2 separate regions of the Homo sapiens genome follow, and region 2 is linked to region 1. A link means that fine-mapping ties the variant in region 1 to the expression of a gene that starts in the linked region. Tissue or cell type: blood mononuclear cells. Region 1 holds a variant in brackets; the other region holds the start of a gene. All regions are shown on one strand. Distances are from middle to middle.

The links. PIP is the estimated chance that this variant, and not a neighbour inherited with it, causes the effect.
Region 2: it holds the start of SBF2, and the variant in region 1 is fine-mapped to the expression of SBF2 in blood mononuclear cells (TOPMed, PIP 0.99).

Annotation. Positions count from the first base shown.
Region 1 is chr11:9,805,576-9,813,725 of GRCh38, reverse strand. SBF2 (SET binding factor 2) reads left to right here. Exons shown (of 40, transcript NM_030962.4): 30 at 1,018-1,194; 31 at 4,724-4,825; 32 at 5,541-5,726. It overlaps SBF2-AS1 (SBF2 antisense RNA 1), which reads right to left. Exons shown (of 3, transcript NR_036485.1): 2 at 4,442-5,878; 3 at 2,407-3,466. Among named protein-coding and RNA genes, the nearest start is that of LINC02709, 50 kb to the right of the region's middle. The variant C/T (reference allele first, on the strand shown) is at 4,678.
Region 2 is chr11:10,290,051-10,296,824 of GRCh38, reverse strand. SBF2 (SET binding factor 2) reads left to right here and starts at 2,606. Exons shown (of 40, transcript NM_030962.4): 1 at 2,606-2,810. The coding sequence starts at 2,756. RefSeq lists silencers at 2,469-2,518, 2,639-2,918, 2,949-3,028, 3,069-3,208.

The sequences.
Region 1 (8,150 bases):
AGGTAATCTGTCTGCCTCAGCCTTCCAGACTGCTGAGATTACAGTCATGAGCCACCGTGCCCGACCATGTAATTTTTTATTATTGACTTTTAAGAAGTAGGACTGGGCGTGGTGGCTCACGCCTGTAATCTCAGCACTTTGGGAGGCCGAGGTGGGCGGATCACAAGGTCAAAAGATTGAGACCATCCTGGGCAACATGGTGAAAGCCCATCTCTACTAAAAATGCAAAAATTAACTGGGTATGGTGGCGCACGACTGTAGTCCCAGCTACTCGGGAGGCTGAGGCAGGAGAATCGCTTGAACCTGGGAAGCGGAGGTTGCAGTCAGTCAAGATCGCACCATTGCGCTCCAGCCTGGGTGACAGAGCAAGACTCCATCCCAAAAAAACAAAAAAATAACCACAATGTTGGTAGTCTTGGGGCAGTAAGAAAGTGATTTCTATTTCTTTCTCAATATTTATCTCTACCTTTTTTCATTTTTATTATGAATATGTTTTACTTGCATAATAAGAAACAAATATGTGCATATCTACAAACTTTAATACACGTACAGTCTGGAACTCCAACAGTGTGTTACCTATCCCTTACCATATACATCTTGGGAAGACTTAGTTTACACTGTTGGAGTAATCATACTGTCCATGTATCATTAGTTTCTCTTTAAACTTCCAGGTTCATGGCCTTATAATTGACTTATATTTGGTATTATGAGCTCCATCAAGTTCCAGTCTACCAGTAGGCTCTTCCAGTTCTCAGAATGAACGCATTCTTAGGCTAAGTAATCTACCTCTAGTAAGGACTAGATTTGCCATTCTGGGCAAACCACTAGCTTGTACTGAATGGCTGTTCCCACCAACACTGACACATTGCTGTACAAGATTGACTTTCTTGACCCATTGGCAGCCTCTGCAGCTATTTGGCCCCAAATAACTTTGTCATTATGCACTGCCCCATTGGAAACATCACTCTTTTACCTATAGCACTTCATCTGCCTAATTCTCTGAATCTTCATCCGCAGAACTTCAAGGTAGAATTTGCTTTAAATTGTGAGTTTGTTCCTGTTGAATTTCATGAAATCCGGCAAGTGAAAGCCAGTTTTAAGAAGCTGATGAGGGCTTGTATCCCAAGCACCATCCCTACTGACTCAGAAGTGACCTTCCTGAAAGCGCTGGGAGATTCTGAGTGGTTCCCACAGGTAATGTCTGAAGCAGCTTCTTTCTTTATAACTCAAAGAAACAGAGGCCCAAGTAGATATACAGAACTGTATTTGAGAAAAAAAATACTTTGTTCCCCTACTCCCCAACATTCTCCTCCTTCATTGTGTGCCATCAGTAAAGGCCTTTCAGACTAAGGAAATCATCTGGTATAGGAGGTGAGGGAGTAGAAGTCTTGATCGCTGGGTTTTTATCTCTGTGTATTTAAAAGTTTGGTATCTATAGGACACTAAGGAGAAAATTATTTTTAGATGGAAATCTTTGATGTAAATTTAATCAGCATGTATTTACAGGGCTCCTGCTCTGTTGTCAATACAGTAAGGATCCAGGGCAGAGGGCAACTTCTGCATGACTCCCAAGAGCTCTCACCTTTCATTTGTCTGCCTATCCCAGGTCTCTAGATTTTAGATCCACCCCACACTACCCACCAAAGGCACACTGGATGCCCCCAAGCCTACCTAAGGCTTGAAAAAAAAACACAGTGTCTATCATCTTTCAGTTCAGTCAACTTTGGGATATTCTTAATTGAACTTTTATTGAGAAATTAAAGGGCCTTGTCTTTAAGCCCCTTTATTTCTTATATTGCCCAGGCTGGTCTTGAACTCCTGGCCTCAAGTAATCCTCCCACCTTGACCTCCCAAAGAGCTGTGATTACAGGCATGAGCTGCCACGCCTGGCCCCCATTATTTGTTATCACCTTGCAGAAATTCCCAGTCCCCTGCCTCCATCTACCTCCAAGCATCCTGCCTCTTGTTTCCCACAGCACATTGGACTAAAAGGCAAAAAAAAAAAAAGGAAATGATGTCAGTACTCAGGGCTGTGACTGTTCTCAAGATACTTAAACCAAAGAGAAATGCCGCCACATAAATATTTGGCTATAAATGTATCATGCTGTGTTCATTATTATTAAGGCAATTTAGGGTGCTTTGCATACCCGTGGAAGGAACTGGTCGATACTCCCTTCTGTCCCCAGGCTATGAGCCCCAGCTCCAAACGGACCCCTCCACCCAACTTATCTATCCATGTTTCTGATACATTCTGTGCTCTACTCTTTGCTAGAAAGTGGACCTGTACCAAAAGATAGGGACTAAAGACAGTGGAAAATAATTGCCCACTTGGGATATTGACATCTTAAAAGTTAACTCTTAAAGCAAATTCTTTTTTTAACTTTTATTTTGTGTTCAGGGGTACATATGTAGGTTTGTTGTATAGGTACATTGCATATCTTGGGAGTTTGGTGTACAGATTATTTCATCACCCAGGTAATAAGCATAGTACCTGATAGGTAGTTTTTCTATCCTCACCCTCCTCTCACCTCCAACCTCAAATACGCCCCAGGCGTCTATTCCTTTCTTTGTGTCCATGTGTACTCAATGTTTAGCTCCCACTTATAAGTGAGAATATGCAGTATTTGGTTTTCCATTCCTGTGTTAGTTTGCTTCAGCTGTGTTACTGCAAAGGACATAAGCTCATTCTTTTTATGGCTGTGTAGTATTCCATGGTGTATATGTACCATATTTTCTTTATCCAGTCTACCGTTGATGGGCATATAGGTTGACTCCATGTCTTTGCTATTGTGAATAGTACAGCACTGAACATGTGTGTGCATGTGACTTTATGGTAGAACAATTTATATTCCTTTGGGTATATACTCAGTAATGGGATTGCTAGGTCAAATGGTAATTCTGTTTTAAGTTATTTGAGAAATCACCAAACTACTTTCTACAATGGCTGAACTAATTTACATTCCCACCAGAAATGTATATACATTCCCTTTTCTCCACAGGCTCGCCAGCATCTGTTATTTTTTGACTTTTTAATAATAGCCATTTCTTAGAACAAATTCTGAGCCCAAAAGAATTCAGGCCTGGTGATAGCTATGTTGTAGAAACAGTTACATGAGGAGCTTCTCATTACTGAGTAGGGCATTTGCCTTATTCCTGTGTTTAAAGTAGCCTAGCTCTGTTTAAGAGATGGGTTTTTTCATTTTTGTTCTTGTTCAGAGTTGGATTCAAATTGCAAATTATGTCTGATGATCATTAAAATATTTTTTAAAATTACAATGTTATACATCTGGTTTTAAAATCTATATACTATTCTCATACCTTAATTGTTTATTAAGGACTTTGAGCCAATTGATGTGGCTTTAAAAACTTAGCACAAATATATTGAAAGTTTTTTTCTCATTTAGTACACAGTATAGACAAATAGGAGTATCTTTTTTATTTTTATTTTTCGAGACAGGGTCTTGCTCTGTCACCCAGGCTAGAGTGCAGTGGCACAATCACAGCTCACTGCAGCCTCGATCTCCCAGGTTCAAGCGATCCTCCTACCTCAGCCTCCTGAGTAGCTGGGATTACAGGCAGATGCCACCACGCCTGGCTGGTTTTTGTATGTTTTGTAGAGATGGGGTTTTGCCATGTTGCCCAGGTGGTCTCAAACTCCTGAGCTCAAGCACTACTCCTGCTTCAACCTCCCAAAGTGCTGGGATTACAGGCGTTGAGCCACCACACCCAGCCAGGAGTTTCTTTTTTAACATATAATTCACTTACCATAAAATTTATCCTTATGATAAAGGTGCACAACTCAACGCTTTTTGGTATGTCCACAACATTGTGTAACTATCACCACTATCTAATTCCCAAAAAATTAAGAATACCTGAAATAGGCCAGGCGTGGTGGTTCACGCCTGTAATGCTAGCACTTTGGGAGGCTGAGGCAGGTGGATTACCTGAGGTCAGGAGTTCAAGACTAGCCTGGCCAACATGGTGAAACCTCGTCTCTACTAAAAATACAAAAAATTAGCCGGGTGCACTGGTATGCACCTGTAATCCAAGCTACTCGGGAGGCTGAGGCAGGAGAATCGCTTGAACCCGGGGGGCAGAGGTTGTGGTTAGCCAGGATTGCATCACTGCACTCCAGCCTGGGTGACAGAGCGAGACTTTGTCTCAAAAAAAAAAAAAAAAAATGTCTGAAACAAAACTTACTACATCATGGAAAAACAAATTTTAAATCCAATAAAATTCATCTGAATTTCCGTCTTTTGTTGGGAAGTCCACATAGAATCTCTGTTTTTTGTACTCTATGGAATTATAGCTCACCTACTTTTGGGGGAATCATGTAAGGTAATTTTATTTCATTATGTATTACTAGAATGTATTGTTTTAAAATGTGTCTACTTTTTTGAAGTGTCATTTTGTTGTTGTTTTCATTGAGATGGGGTCTTACTATGTTGCCCAGGCTGGTCTCGAACTCCGAACCTCAAATGACCTGCCCGGCTCGGCCTCCCAAAGTGCTGGGATTATGGGCATGAGTCATTGCATCCAGTCAAAAGTGTCATTGTTTAATCTTGATTTGAAAGAACTTTAGGTATTTAAAACATTATGTGGTTCTTTTGTGCAAGCGCTTTATCCCTAAGTCGTTTGATTATCCAGGGTTGAAAGCAACTCTCTCTGACTTCTGCA[C/T]TCAGAAAGCGCTTGGTCTAATTGTGTTCTCCTTCCTGTCTCTTAGCTTCACAGGATAATGCAGCTGGCTGTGGTTGTATCAGAAGTACTTGAGAATGGTTCCTCAGTTTTGGTCTGTTTGGAGGAAGGCTGGGACATCACTGCACAAGTAAACTATTAGACATATTTTTTGATATTTTATATTTATATTTCCATTTGGTCATTTTTAAATTCTTCAGATGACTCTTTTGTATAATGACTAATGTGTTTATGGACAGAGAAAGTCCTGTGTTAAACAGCACCTGGTATCCATCAGAAAACTCCGTACCATGAGCTCTTAGCCCCTACGCAGCCTGGAGCTCTGGCTCCGGGCATCAAGCTCTCCCATCCACAGATGTACCATGCAGGCTTGCGGATGGAGCCCTTGACCAGCAGTGTGAGGCGTGGACCATCCTTCCTGGGTTTTGTCAGTCCATCCCCTGGCTCTCTATAAGCCCCGCCTTAACTCACTCCAGAGTGAAAAGTGTGAGTTCAGACTACATTAAGACATTAATCTGCATCTGCCAAAAAGTAGAATTGATTTTAACTGATCCTCTGGCCTCTGATTAACTTAGGAAAAGGTTGCTGTCAGCAAACTGGCCAGTTAAGGATTAAAGTCTCAATTCCCTGAAAGTAAACTTGTAGCCAAAATGAATTTGAGCTTTAGTTTTTACTGGCAAGTTTACAAAATTAATTTTATTGGCCATCCTGGAATGGTTAGTGAACAAATTTGCTGTCCAGGTAAATTTGTGAATTAGCTATCATCAGAAGGAAGTGCTTTTATCTTAGTAATAGGCCTTTTTCAGAACTAAAATTAATGACAATCCATCCTGCTTATGCCCTAGGTGACATCCCTGGTTCAGTTACTCAGTGATCCCTTTTATAGGACACTTGAAGGCTTCCAGATGTTGGTTGAAAAAGAGTGGCTCTCTTTTGGTCACAAATTCAGTCAGAGGAGCAGCTTGACCCTCAACTGTCAGGGGAGTGGTTTTGCTCCAGTCTTCTTACAGTTCTTAGACTGTGTACACCAGGTAAGTAGAGCAAGCTTGAGTTGACTTGATATGAAGGAAAGAACACAACATACTAGCATTGATGGAGCATTGCGATGGTGTGCCCGGTACCTTCCTGTCATAACTCTGATTAACTCAGCCACAGGACATGCTGAAATCTTAGCAGTAGACTCCTAGGAATGGAAAAGAAAAAAAATTAGTTGGTTTCTGAAACTAGGACAGCTAAGCTGGCTGTTGGGCTTGCCCCAAGTGAAGTAGCCAGCACTCTAAATGACCATCTTCAAAGAAGAGAAGCAAACTTGGGCTTATTACCTAAGAACAAAATCTCTAGGTAATACGGGTCCTGAAATCGAGCACATGGTCTGCCCAGTTTGGGAGGACCCCAGCTTGTGCCTGGGAACATAAGAGGTAAAGCCTAACCCCTGGAGAAATAATCAGGGCCCAGCCAGACAGGCATACAGGCTTGAGAACACTGGTCACTTCTACCACATGGAGAAACTGTGGTACATATATACCATGGAATACTATGCAGCCATACAAAAGAATGAAATCATGTCTTTTGCAATGACATGGATATAGCTGGAGGCCATTATCCTAAGCAAATTGATGCAGAAGCAGAAAACCAAATACCTCATGTTCTCACTTATAAGTGGGAGCCCAGGTATATCCATTCAAATGCAGTGAGGGTAGGGGAGATGTGACTGCTCTAGGCTCCCTCCTGCCTTCATCGCAGGCACATCAGATACAGACCTCTGGATGGGGCCTTGGTCAGGATTGGGTTTGAGAATTGGATGGCACTGAGCTTGCAAGTTGAAGACTGAATTGGCCTAGGAAAAGCAGGCCTATTTCCAGCTTTCATTTGACCACAATCCCAGGGTTGGATGAATGGGTTCTGGCATGTCAAACATTTGTGGGAATGGTGAGCCTCTTTGAAACACACTGGCCTCAAATATCGATTGGAAAGAAAGGCAGAACTATGTTTTCAGGAACCAGAGTTGAAACTAACTGTGATGACACCAAGTTAGTATGTGGTTATGTTTTATTTTGTTTTTATTCTAGTAATCACTTGATCAACTTTCCAGATCACTACATAATTTTTGTAAATAACAGCTTTATTGAACTATATATATCATACAATTCACCTATTTAAAGTGTTCAGTGGTTTTGAATCCATTCACAAAGTTTTGTAACAATTACCACAATCAATTTTAGAGCATTTTATCACTCCAAAAAGAAACTCCATACTCATGAGCAGTGACTTTCCAACCTTTCACCCCACACACAGGAAGCTATGTTTTTTACTGCTCTAATTTACTTATTAAAGACAAGACCGATTGACGAATTTCAATTGATCTGTCCAAGCAGTAACTGGAGGAGCTGGTCACAAGGTTAAGCATGTACCTTTAAACTCTTTGCAGCAAAGAGTATACTATATTTGTTTTCTGTTTGAATATTGGCCCTTTTATTCATACTCCTTTTGGCAAATAGATGAGGGAGAAGTTTGGAGACCATTGTCTCTGAAACAGAAAGCTTACCTGAGGCCAAAGGAGAGGAGCAAGCATCTATCTCTTCTCACTTCTAGGCAGGTGAAAGCATATGAGTTCTTCATGAAAGCACTTCTTATCTTGCTTTTTTATTATGCTTATCAATTGGACTAGACTATTTCCTGCCTCCGTATACCACCATTACTAACAATAATTACTAATTTGTGTCGACTGCTTACTATGTGCCAGGCACTGTTCTGAGCACTACACATGTTATTTTAGTTCATAATTCTTTGAATCTTTTGCTGACCCTCACGCTCCCACTTTATATGTATTTCTAATGAGTCAGGTATAGACTTCTTTGATAACATCTATAGCACTAAAGTATGTTTATTTGTATGTAACTATTGCCCTCTACTTAGTCTGAGAATTCTTGGGAACAGGGACTATGTCATACTAGTCTTCATATCCCTAGTATCTAACACAATTACAGTTTCAGTCTCTGGAATATAATAGACAATAAATAGATAATCTCAATGAATATATGAGAATTTGAAAGACCACAAGTCTTGTTCATGCTCTTACCACCCTTCATCAAGACCATCTAGAATATCCTGGTCGGGCGTGGTGGCTCACGCCTGTAATCCCAGCACTTTGGGAGGCCAAGGTGGGTGGATCACGAGGTAAGAGATCAAAACCATCCTGGCCAACATGGTGAAACCCCATCTCTACTAAAAATACAAAAAATCAGCCAGACGTGGGGGCGCACGCCTGTAGTCCCAGCTACTTGGGAGGCTGAAGCAGGAGAATCGCTTGAACCCGGGAGGCGGAGGTTGCATTGAGCTGAGAAGCCCCCACTGCACTGCAGCCTGGGAGACAGAGCGAGGCTCCGTCTTGGGGGAAAAAAAAAAAATCTAGAATATCCTAAGTAGAATTGCTGGCATAATCTTCCAAAAGCTCA
Region 2 (6,774 bases), 480 kb before region 1:
TGCTGGTGAAAATGTAAAATGATGCAGCCACTGTGGAAAACAGTAGTAACAGAACTACTTAATCCAGTAATTCCAATCCCAAGAATATATCCCCAAAATTGAAAACAGGTACTCAAATACATGTACATGCATGTTTGAAGCAGCACTATTCACAATGCCAAAAGGTGGAAACAACCCATATGTCCATATGGGTTGTTCCAGATAAACAAAATATGGTATATACATATGATATGGTTTGGCTGTGTCCTCACCCAAATTTCATCTTGAATTGTACCCCATAATTCCCACCTGTCATGGGAGGGATCCGGTGGAAGGTAATTGAATCATGGGGGCGGGTCTTTCTCCTGCTGTTGTGGTGATAGTGAATAAGTTTTATGAGATTTGATGGTATAAAGGAGAGTTCTGCATAAGCTCTCTTGTCTGCCGCTTTGCTCTCCTTGCCTTCCGCCATGTGGAACTGTGAGTCAATTAAACCTCTTCTCTTTATAAATTACCTAGTCTCGGGTATGTCTTTATTAGCACCGTGAGAACAGTCTAACACAATATACAATGGAATATTATTGAGTCATAAAAAATAATGAAGTATTGATACTTCAATGTGATGCTACAACCTTGTACTGTATCTGCCCGTAAACAAGCTGAGAACAATATACTAAGTGAGAAAAACCAAGACACAAAAAACCCACATATTGTATGATATGAATATGAAATATTCATAATAGGTAAATCCATAGAGACAGAAAGCAAAATGGTGATTGCCAGGGGCTGTGGGAGGGGAGAATGAGAATGACTGCTTAATGGTTGTGAGGTTTTCTTTTGGGTGATGAAAATGTTTTGTAACTAGATAGACATGGTAGTTGTACAGCATTGGGAATGTACTTAATTGCCACTGAATTCTACATTTTCAAGTGGCTAATTTTACAATATGTGAATTTTGCCCTATTTTTAGAAAAGTTGGGAAGGAATATGATAGCTGCCTTAAAAATCTATCATATGAAGATAGATTTTTTTTTTCTGGATAGTTCCGGAGAGCAGAATCAGGGGAAGTTACAGTAAGACAACTCTGAAATAATAAGGAAGAACTTTCTAACAATAGGGCTGTTAAACAGTGGAATGCGCTGCCTCCCAAGGAAGTAAGATTACTTTTTACTGAAAGTGATCAAGTTGGATGATGAGCTCTCAGGGAAGTTACAGAGAGGATTGCTGCACGGGGTATGACTGAGGTTTTTTTTTTTTTGGTTTAATTATTTTCAGGATCAAACTATCTTCCCTCCACGTTTGCAAATTCAGCTGATTCAGTTTTACCATTAGCAACTGACATAGAGGTCCTGGAGTTAAAGTATTCCTTCAGTTTCAGTTCTAGTGCAGCCCAACCCTCCCAATTTGTAGATGAAACAAGTGTGGCAGAGAAAGGGGAAATAGTAAATTACAGCAGAGTAAATCTTCAGGAGCTGAGATGTCAACTCTCTCAGTTCAGAGTTGGAGCCATTGCGGCTTCCTGCTGGTCGTTGGGGAAAATCGCACATTTACTCATTTAAAATATTTTGTAGGCACCTACTATATACTAGACGCTTTGCTAAGAGGCCTTGTCTTATGTGTAAATATGAAGGATCAAACCCTCAATTAATAGTGAGCAGTGATAAGCAACCACAAAGACAACTTCTAAACCACGGAGATTTCCAAAACTTTGGTCTACCACTTGTACAAATTCTACTAAAACTTCGTGAGATATTAACAAATGACAAAGTGAGTTCACCTGAATGTCACACCAGCCAAATTCGAAATGGTCAATAGGAGGTTCAACAAAAAAGCAAGCGACTTTGATAATCCCGAGACGGAAGGACGGGACCATCTATTCATTTTTGTGCATGTTTGAGCAGGGAAGTTGGAAGTCCACCTGCTCGGGCTGCGAGAGCCCTGGGACCGCTGCGAGGGAAGCAAGCCGAGGCGTGCGGGGCTCCCCAGGGAGAGGCCAGCCCAGTTCGGGAGGATCCCGGGGATGCCGCGTTCCTCGGTGGAATCTGGCTCTCCCGGGCGCTCCGGGGGAAGCCCAGGCCGACCGCCCCCGGCCCACCCGGCATTGAAACCCGAGGCTCCTTGGAGGATTGCGTAAAAGCCTCTCCCTCCCCCGTCTGCTCGGTGGCATGTTTCTAAAATTCCCATCTACACAACATAAACAGGAAACGTGCAGCAAAAGCCCTGTCGATGCAAATTCCTTGCTTCCAACCGAGGGCGGGAGAATTTCATCTTTGGTGGTGGTGGGGAGCAGAGGAAGCAGCCAGCTTTCCAAGTGACCCCTCAACTCTCCACATCCCTTCTTCCAAATCCAAACAGAATAGAGAAGGCGGAAGGAAGGACCCCCTGCTTTAGGAAAAATAGGGAGGCAGAGGGGGCCGTGAAGCAGCATCCAGGCCTCAAAGTGAACCACCTCCAGGGGCCGCGGTGGCGGCGCGTGGCGGGAACACGCCCGACCGCCCACTCCCCCAGCGCAGCAGTCCGCGAGGCCCGCGGAGGGTGGAGGTGGGCTCGCCGCCCGGGCTTGGGGCAGCCGAGCCAGCGCGGGTGGGGGCGGGGGAGGAGCGGGCACTAGGCGCCGCGCAAGCGCAGAGCGCGCCTCGGTTGTCAAACATGGCTGAAGCGCTGCCGCTGCCGCTACTGCCGCTGCAGGGAAAATGCTGAGCCCTCCCGGGCCGGGTGGGCGGCGGCGGCGAGGGCGGCGACGGGGACCCGCTTCCCGAGCGCGGCGGCGGCGGCCATGGCCCGGCTGGCTGACTACTTCATCGTGGTAGGCTATGACCACGAGAAGCCAGGTAAGGGTGTGGGGCGGCACCGCCCCCGGGCCTCCCCGCCCCCCGGCCGCTGTCCAGTGGGCTCCGCGGGGCCGGGCGTCGGGGACGGGCGTCGGGGAGGGCCAGGCCGAGTCTCGGAGGAGCGGGCGGTCGGCGTCCGGCCTTCTCGGCTGGGCTGAGCCTGGCGGTGGGCGTGGGGGGGCCGGCACGACGGTAGGGGGAGGGAAGACGCCGCGTCTGCCCAGCCCCTGGGCGCACCCGCTGGGCGGGCCGGAGGCGAGTTGGGGTCTCGCGACCCTCCCGCTGGAGGCTGCAGGGTACCCGGGGCAGAGAGAGCCCTGAGATTGGGCCCAGGACCGCAAGGCTGGGAGGGCGGGAGCCAACTGTGCTAAGTTCCTCGGGGATAAACTTCTGCCCTGCATCCTGAGTGAGTAACCAGTGACGCAGGGGGTTGTCCTCTCCGAAAGGAAGTGCTGAGAGTCCAGTGCTAACTCACCCCTGTGCTGTTGGGGGCCTAGTGACCTCCCCAAGGAACGCGTGGTACCAGGGAAGGGGACAGGATTCTTTGCACTTTTACCCCTTTCTAGGAAATGCTCCCTATTCTTTCAGGACAAATGTGACGGTCACTTCACAGTGACATGACTTGTCTTTTAACTAAGGACAGCCAGCTGACCGCTGAAGGTGATCTTGTTTCACTTTAATGTGTTTTCATTGTTCTTTTTATTTGTCACAGAATTTTCGTCGTAAGGAACAATTGGGCAAATGCATTGTATTTTACACTTTAATTGACGGACTTCCACAACTTAAGAGAATTCAGGGTTCATGCACGTTTATTTCTGTATTTGTATTCTCTTGTATTACTATGTAGCTAAGCATAATGTAATAACAAATTGAGCTGGGAAACCACTTCTATTTTAGGGCAATTCTAGTCCCACATTTGCAAGGAATTTGAGATATCAGCTCTACAGCCCCTTCATTTTTCAGAGATGCTGAGATTGTGTTTTCCTGATGGTTACAGCCATTGGTAGCTCAGAATACCATTGTTCTACCCACTCTTGGTCCACTCTCTCTTTCATTATTCCTCTCCTAAGAACTTCCTCTCCTTTAGTGGGAACCTTTCATGTTCTTTTCTCTTTCACCAGTCATGACCTGATTGAGGTCAATTGTTAAAGAGAAAGTTTAAATGTTTAAACTTCTGGATCCAAAATTTTATTTCCTAGTAATTTGGCATAGTCTGATGTTTCTTTTCTATCAAGATTAAGTGTGGGAAATCAGTTTTTTAACCTTTAGTTTTTAGTGACATTGTTCCGCCTCCCCCCCTCCCCACTTTTAAACAATTTTTTTTTTTTTTTTTTTTGAGACGGAGTTTTGCTCTGTTGCCCACGCTGGAGTGCAGTGGTGCGATCTTGGCTCACTGCAACCTCTGTCTCCCGGGTTGAAGCAATTCTCTGCCTCAGCCTCCGGAGTAGCTGGGATTTACAGGCGCCCGCCAACACGCCCGCTAATTTTTGTATTTGTAGTAGAGACGGGATTTCACCATCCTGGCCAGGCTGGTCTTGAACTCCTGATCTCGTGATCCACCGGCCTCGGCCTCCCAAAGTGCTGGGATTACAGGCTTGAGCCACCACGCCCGGCCAACAATGTTGAAACAATAACAGACTTGCAAAAAAGTTGCAAGAATGGTACAAAAAATTCTACCCGCCCCCCAACAATTTGAGAGGAAGCTGTTGACCTGATGCCCTGTCATCCCAGAATACTTTAATGTGCATTTTCTGCAAACAAGAATGTTCTCCTACATGATCACAGTGTAATAACCAAAACAGGAAATGGATAGTGATACAGTACTCCATCTAGTTCTCAGACTGGTTCAAGTTTTGTTGATTGTGCTAGTAATCTCTTTACTGGCAAAAGGATCCAGTTTAGCAATATGTGTTGCATTCATGTTATGTCTCTTTTGTCTCCCTCAATCTGGAACATTTCCTTTATCTTCTCCTGACTTTCATGACCTTAACATATTTAACAATTACAGGTCAGTCACTTTGTAGGCTGCCCCCTCAATTTGGGATTGTCTGTTCCTTCATGATTAGATACATACGAATATGCACGTGGGAAGGATATCACAGAAGTGATGCTCACTGCATCCTGTCAGGTGGTGCACAATTTCACTTTGTTTCATTGTTGGTTATTTTTACTTTGATTACTTGATATAAGTAATATCTGCGAGGCTTCTCCACTGTAAAGTTAATACTTAATTGTTTTTGCCATGTACTTTGAAACTATGTAAATATCTTGTTCCTCACTAAACTCTTAATCATTTATTGACATCTACATGGAGTCTGTGTGTGTGTGTGTGTGTGTGTGTGTGTGTGTGTGTGTGTTTAGTGGATTATATTCTGTTACTATTTGCCTTAGTCTATTCGGAAAAAGTCACTAGCCCACCTGCCCGAAGCACTGGCTTGAGTGGGAAATAGGAGAGTCTAAGCACATCCAGCCGAAGTGAGACCAGAAAGGGGAGCTCGCGGATTATATTCTGTTACTATTTGCCTTAGTCCATTCGGGCTGTTATAACAAAAATACCTCAAACTGGGTGGCTTATAAACAATAGAAATTTATTTTTCACAGTCTGGAGGCAGAGAAATCCAAGATGAAGACTCTGACAGATTCAGTGTCTGGTGAGGACATGCTTCCTCATAGCCATGTTCTCACTTTAACCTCATATGGCTTAAGGGTCAAATGAGCTCTCTGGGGTCTCTTTAAAAAGGGAACTAATCCCATTCACAAGGACTCCACCACCATGACCTGATCACTTCCTAAAGGCCTCACCTCATAATACCATCACTTTGGGTGTTAGGATTTTAACATACGAATTTTGGGAGGGGACATACACATTCAGACTATAGCATTATTTATTTTGATGTTCAAATTGTTCTTTATATGGCCAATGAGAGTTGTACAAGCTGGCTTCTGTGTTCTTATGGTACATCCCCATCACTCTTTGAGAACAACTTTGTACTTTTTGGCACAAGAACCTGTTCCTGGCTCATCTTGTACTTTCCATGCCTTGGTTCTGTAATCAGCCATTTAGGGATCCCTGGTTCCTTTTAGTGGAGAATGACATTTAGAAGCTAAGATCTCAAGGCTAGTGTGTTTATTGCTGTTGGGCTGTTACTCCTTCCAGGTCCTGTTAATGGTCAGGGCTGGTAAGTATAGGTATGTATGCATAAACATACATATGCATTTATATCTATATTTATTTATTATCTCTGTATATTGAAAACTATGAATTCATACTGATACCTCCAATTTCAGTCAAATAGTCCAGGATCTATTCTAGTGTTCTCCTTTTTCATATTGTAACGTTCTTCTCTGACAGTGAGAAATCTGGCTTCTGTTATCCTGAATGTATTTACTTATTGTTCAGTCTCCCATCTTCACTACCATCTACTCCTCTCCCTGCTGGGACTTGGATTCTTCATTCCATCTCCTCCATCCCCCTACCCCAGTCTGGATCTAAGAGTCCATACCAGCATGCTTCCATACAGGGACACCCTCCCCAGCACTCTGGTTATGACTCCTCATGTTGGTCTCCCCACTGTCGGTGGACACACTTCGTACCCCACTCAGACTCTGACACACCCCAGTGAGTTGCTTCCATTGGAAGATATCCTTCTCACTCTGTTGTACCCCAGTGCCCTTTGCCAGTTTCCCCCTCCTGCCTTAATGCTTGGGCTCTGAAGCAAAATGTTTGCCTCTTCCCCTACCACACAGACTCCTTCCCTAGCTCTCTTGGTCTATGACAATATGACAAGCTCCACCCCAGGGATCCACCTCCACCCCAGGGGTACCATGACAACTGCTCTTCTCACAGCAGGAAAAGGGAAGGAGAAGGAAGATTAATTTTTTAAGTAATACAATCCAGAAGCTTGTATAAATTGTAGAATGTCAACAGTGAAATGTATAACTTTTTAACTTGGGATAATTCTTC